Linked DNA regions of Homo sapiens: region 2 is linked to region 1. The links come from fine-mapping of genetic effects on gene expression. A gene starts in region 1. The other region holds a variant in brackets. All regions are shown on one strand. Distances are between the middles of the regions.

Region 1 (3,024 bases):
TAAAGGTGGGCAGGGGATTAGGTGGGGGCTGTGATGGATGAAGATTGTCTGTTCATGGGCCAGTGGTCTTCAGTCCACCAGCCCCGGAGAAACTCTGTTCTACTCCTTGCTTGAGCTCTGGGCTTTCAAGGTCTTGTCTGTCAAGGTGATCATGTGGATCAAAGGAGAATTAAATTTTCTCCATTTTTATTCATCAAAGAAATGATTATGCTGGTCAGAACTGCTGAGGGCAGCTGAGCAATGGCAGGGAGGCTTATGTCGGGGAGGCCTGGGGAGGCAGTGAATCGTAGACCTCACCCATTCCCTTCTCTGACACCCCCCGCCCCCGATGCCTGCAACTCACTTTCTTGTGGCATAGCTCAGAGCTCCAGGCCTAGAAAATCAGAGGAAGATCCTGGGGGCCCAAGAGGGAGGCTGGGGACAGGTGGGGAGCGGGTAGCTCAGCCACTCAGTCTGGATGCCTGTCACCTTCCGTTCTGGCTGGCCAGCCACATGAAGGGCCCATTCTGCTGCCCATTCACAAGGGGCTTTCATCTCTGCAGCCAGTGAAGCATTGCTCCCATCTCAGCCAGCAAGGAGACACAGGGGAGGGGGTGTGCAGACTTGCCATGACCTCAGACTCCATGCTGGAAAGGCATGGCCCTGGGCCAGGGCATCCTAAGCAGCCCATCTGCCCCAATCCCCCAGCTTCCAGGCCACCAGAGTCCTCAGCAAGGGGGATCTGAGTAAGAGATGGGCAGTGACTCCCCAACTCTTGTAGAAACCTAGTCCTCCCATTTCAACAAGGGTAAGGCTGACCTCTCTTCCAGCTTATTCAGGGCAAAAGATGGCCCTCCCATCACAAGAGGGGCAGGAGTCCAGTGGGTCATGGCTCAGCCCCCTGCTCCTTTCCCAGGGAGCAAGGTAAGTATGGTGGCCTTCAGGACAGGGCAGGAAGACCAAAGCCTGAACCCTTGCGCAGCCATGGGAGAAGACAGCACATTAGAGGGTAGCCCCTGAGACCCAGGAGAACAGGGACTGACTCACGGTGTCCTTCCAGGGAGGAGGGAGGCAGTCATATCCACAGCCCGCCCTTGAAGAGGGGCGAAGTGGAGCTGGCAGGGCTGCTGGTAAAAGCAGCACCCCCGACCCCCACCCCTCAAGTCCATTCTCCAGTTGGGAGAAACAGCAGTGACCATCACATGGTAAGCAGTGAGTGGTTCTGTGAGCTGGGCCTCCTGAGAGTGGACCCTTTCAGCTGTGGCCTGTCCATCTGTCCAGCAGCCACAGCCCCTGTGATGTCACCAGCCCACTGTGTTGCTTGGCAACTTTCCAGGATTAGCATTCTGCCCCTCTCATCCCTGACATCCCACCATAGGCTGATGTTGCCATGGCAACCCGGATAGATGCTGCAGCTTTTTGGACAGCTGTACCTAGTGTGGGAAGTGCCAGGCAAAAGCAGGGAAGCAGGTGCCTCTCTACAGGCCAAGGGGGGTACCCAACCTATACGCAGACCCATTGAGCAGCCAGACTGCCCTAAACAGGGCTATGGAGTCCTTGTCCCTTCTAAGAGCTGTGGACACCTTGCCTCCAGTTCCCCTCACAGTCCTTTCTTCCTTCTGCAGTGATCACTGAGTACCTGTGTGAATGCCAACAAGAAAAATAAAACCACAGTTTGGATTCAGGAAAGGTTGCACCACCATCAGGTCTTGAAGGGTGAGTAGGAGTCCGCCAGATGCAGGAGTGGATGGAGACAGGTTCTAGACAGAGGAAGCAGAAGCCTGTGCAAGGGCTGAACCACTGTCTCCAGGCATAGATTACACCCTGCCTCTAGGTTCCTCATGGCCTGGCCTCTCCATCTTTCCCACTCAATACACTTTATGGTGGGGATAGGGTCCAGTTCAGTTCCAGACACTTAGTGCCCAGCAACAGGCCTGGCACCAAGCCAGCACGACTAAAATGCCAAGTAAAATTCAACATCAGGGCCTATGACCTCCCCTAGTACTAACCGTCTCAGCAAGTCTGTTTCCCCATCTGTGAAATGGGGCCAGTTTTGAGAAGGCTGTGGGCAGGGGTTCTCAGGTACAGATGGGGTGATGTTTTTCTTTTGGTTCTTTTGGTTTGTAAACCACTTCTTTCCCTTACAGAAAAAATTGGAAGACTAGTACATGGACATCTGTGACCTTCAGATTCCCTAATTGTTATATTGCAGCACTTTTGCTTTATCTCCTCTTTGTCTTTTTATCTAGCTATGCTTACCTATATGTATAATTTTTGCTGAACCATTTGAAAGGAAATTGTAGCGGACATTCTGACGTGTTTCTTCAAACACTTCAGGCCACGTCAACTAAGGACAGTCTGATACAACCACAGTAGCATTATCACATCTAAGAAAATTAACAATAATTCAATATTCAGAATAGGGCAGGAAGATCAAAACCTGAACCCATGCCAGGTGCTGAGAGCAGATGAGGGGCATCAGAGGGTGGGCGCCCGAGCCGAGGGGTGTCGGGCGCATCCGCTGCCCAGCGGAAGCGGCGGCCTGAGTGGAGTCACCGTGCAATGGGTGGGTGTGGCTTTGTGAGCCAAGCCCCAGGAGAACCAGAACCCACCTTTTCCTCAGTGCCCTGACCAGCTGTCCCGCAGCTGTGGCTTAAATGCCAACTTCCAGTTCGTAAATTTCTTCAATTATTCCTCCCCAAATTATTTACATATGTATATGTATTTAAATCAGGATTTAATCAAAGTTCTCACGCTGCATTTAGCTGTTTCGCTGCTTACTCTAAAAGGGCACAGGAGGGAAGATGGGTGGGTAATGGAGCCTAGAAGAGTGACGCTCCCTGGTCGGCCCTAATCCTGCCGATCGGGGCATATGCTGGAACATCCCAGTCCCACTGTCCTGGGCGGAAGTAACCGAGACCTGGAGTTGGTGGGTAGGTAAGGGTTCAGGCTGGGGAGGTTCGCGGACGGAAGCTCCCGCCCTGCGGTGCCGGATGGCCCCGCCCCTTAGCAACGGCCTAGCGTCCCTCCCTAGAGACGGGGCTG
Region 2 (2,762 bases), 100 kb after region 1:
ATACTGTAAAAATCACCAATTTTTTTCTTTTTTTGAGAACGGAGTCTCACTCTCTTGCCCAGGCTAGAGTGCAGTGGCGTGATCCCGGCTCACTGCAACCTCTGCCTCCCTGGTTCAAGTGATTCTCCTGCCTCAGCCTCCCAAGTAGCTGGGATTACAGACACCTACCACCATGCCTGGCTAATTTTGTATTTTTAGTAGAGACAGGTTTCACCGTGTTAGCCAGGCTGGTCTTGAACAAAATTCACTAATTTTAAGGGTCCAGTTTGATAAGTTTTGATAAATGTATGTCCCCAAATAACCACCACCCCAATCAAAATAGGTAATATTTTCATCACCCCAGAAAGTTCCCTCCTGCCTCCTTTTCCAGTCAATCCCACTAGACGTAATCACTGTTCTGATCTATGGATTATTTTTGGCTATTCTTTTACTTCATATAAGTGAAATCATATAGTTTATAATCTTCTGTATCTGGCTTTTTTCTCCCAACACAGTGTTTTGGAGATTCATCCATGTTGTTGCATGCATTCATAGCTTGTGCCTTTTTATTACTTGGTAGTATTCGGTTGCATGAATAAGTTACTATTTGCTTATCTGTTCACCTGTTGATGAACATCTGAATTGTTTCCATTTGAGGACTATTATGAATAAAGCTACTTTAAGCATTCATGTACAAGTCTCTTTGTGAACATGTGCTTTCACTTCTCTTGTGCAGATGCCTAGAAGTGGAATTACTAGTTGTATGCTAATTAGATATTTAACTTTATGTGAGGTTGCCACATCACTGTCCAAAGCGGTTGTACCAGCTTACACTCCTACCAGCAATTTATAAGAAGTCCAGTTGCACAGTATTCTTGCCGGAACTTTGTTTTGTCAGTGTTCTTAATTTTAGCCATTCTACTGGGTGTGTATTGGTATTTCATTGTCGTTTTAATTTCCATTTTTCTGATGACTAAAGCTTCTTTTCATGTGCATATTGGCCATTCACATATTTTCTTTGGTTTTTTGGTTTTTTTTTTTTTTTGAGATGGAGTCTCGCTCTGTCGCCCAGGCTGGAGTGCAGTGGTATGATCTTGGCTCACTGCAGCCTCCACCT[C/T]CCGGGTTGGAGCAATTCTCCTGCATCAGCCTCCCAAGTAGCTGGGACTACAGGTGCCTGTCACCACGCATGGCTAATTTTTATATTTTTAGTAGAGACAGGGTTTCACCGTGTTAGCCAGGATGGTCTCGATCTCTTGACCTCGTGATCTGCCCACCTCGGCCTCCCAAAGTGCTGGGATTACAGGCGTGAGCCACCGCGCCTGGCCCGGCCCACATATTTTCGTTTGTTAAGTATCTGTACAAATATTTTTACCCATTTAAAAACACTGAGTGGTGGTCGGGCACAGTGGCTCACGCCTGTAATCCCAGAACTTTGGGAGGCCGAGGCGAGCAGATCAAGAGGTCAGGAGATGGAGACCATCCTGGCTAACACGGTGAAACCCTGTGTCTACTAAAAATAAAAAAATTAGCCGGGCATGGTGGCAGGCGCCTGTAGTCCCAGCTACTCGGGAGGCTGAGGCAGGAGAATGGCGTGAACCCAGGAAGTGGAGCTTGCAGTGAGCCGAGATCACGCCACTGCACTCCAGCCTGGGCGACAGTGCAAGACTCCGTCTCAAAAAAAAAAAAAAAAAATTGAGTGGTTTTATTATTGAGTTGTAGGAATTGCTTATATATTTCAGATACAAATTCTTTTTCAAATATATGTATTGAGACTATTTTCTTCCTAGTCTTTGGCTTGCCTTTTCATTTTCTTAATGGTGTCTTTCAAAGAACAAGTTTGTAATTGTAATGGAGCCCAGTTTATCCATTTTTTTCTTTTATGGTCAGTGCTTTTTGTGTGTTGCAAGAAATCTTTACCTACCCATAGAATTGCCTTGGTGCCTTTGTCAAAATCAATTGACCATATATCTGTGGATCTGGATAATCTATTTATGTCATTGATCTATGTATCTATTCTTACACAAGTCCCCACTGTCTTGATTATTGTGGCTTTATAGTATATTGAAATTCAGTATTGTTAAGTTCTACAATCTTTTCCAAGATTGTTTTGACTATCAGGTCCTTTCTTTATAAAGTTTATATTAAGCTTGTCAATTTTTCTTTAAAAAAAAAGTCTACTGGGATTGTGATTGGGATTGCATTGAATTTATAGGTCAATTTGGGAAGAATTGACAAAAAATATTGAACCTTCCAATCCATGGACATGGTATATTTTTCCACTTATTTGGGTCTTTTAAAATATATCTCAGCAATGTTTTGTTGTTTTGGTGACAAAGTCTTGTACATCTTTTGTTAAATGTATTCCTAAATATTCTGTGGTTATGCTATTGTAAATAGTATTTTTATTTCATTTTTAAGTTTATTGCTGGTATATAGAAATGCATTTTATTTTTGTATATTGATTTGTATCCTGTAATCTTGTTAAATTGAGTTTGATTAGTTGTTTTTTTATTTTGTTGTAAATGCCTTGTTACAGGATTCCCTATGCACATAACCATGTCATGTGTGAATAAAGACAGTTCTACTTCTTTCTCTCAATCTTTGCCTTTTATTTCTTCTTGCCTTGTTGTATTGGCTAGGACCTTTAACCTAACATTGAATAGAAGTGGTGTGAGTTGTTATCCTTGTCTTGTTCCCAACATCAGGGGACAGCATCTAGTTTTTCACTATTAAAGTATGTTAGCTCTAGGTTTTTTTCATAGATGTTTTTATCAGGTTGAAGA

What was found. PIP is the estimated chance that this variant, and not a neighbour inherited with it, causes the effect. A credible set is the group of variants that fine-mapping cannot tell apart.
Region 2: its variant is the best candidate, but not a certain one, in a credible set for the expression of DNAH1 in testis (GTEx, PIP 0.64).

The regions. Positions count from the first base shown.
Region 1 is chr3:52,314,851-52,317,874 of GRCh38, forward strand. DNAH1 (dynein axonemal heavy chain 1) reads left to right here and starts at 1,469. Exons shown (of 78, transcript NM_015512.5): 1 at 1,469-1,695. RefSeq lists an enhancer at 1,983-2,921 and a silencer at 2,860-3,024.
Region 2 is chr3:52,415,180-52,417,941 of GRCh38, forward strand. The region is part of intron 4 of PHF7 (PHD finger protein 7); the gene reads left to right. Among named protein-coding and RNA genes, the nearest start is that of PHF7, 5.9 kb to the left of the region's middle. The variant C/T (reference allele first, on the strand shown) is at 1,097.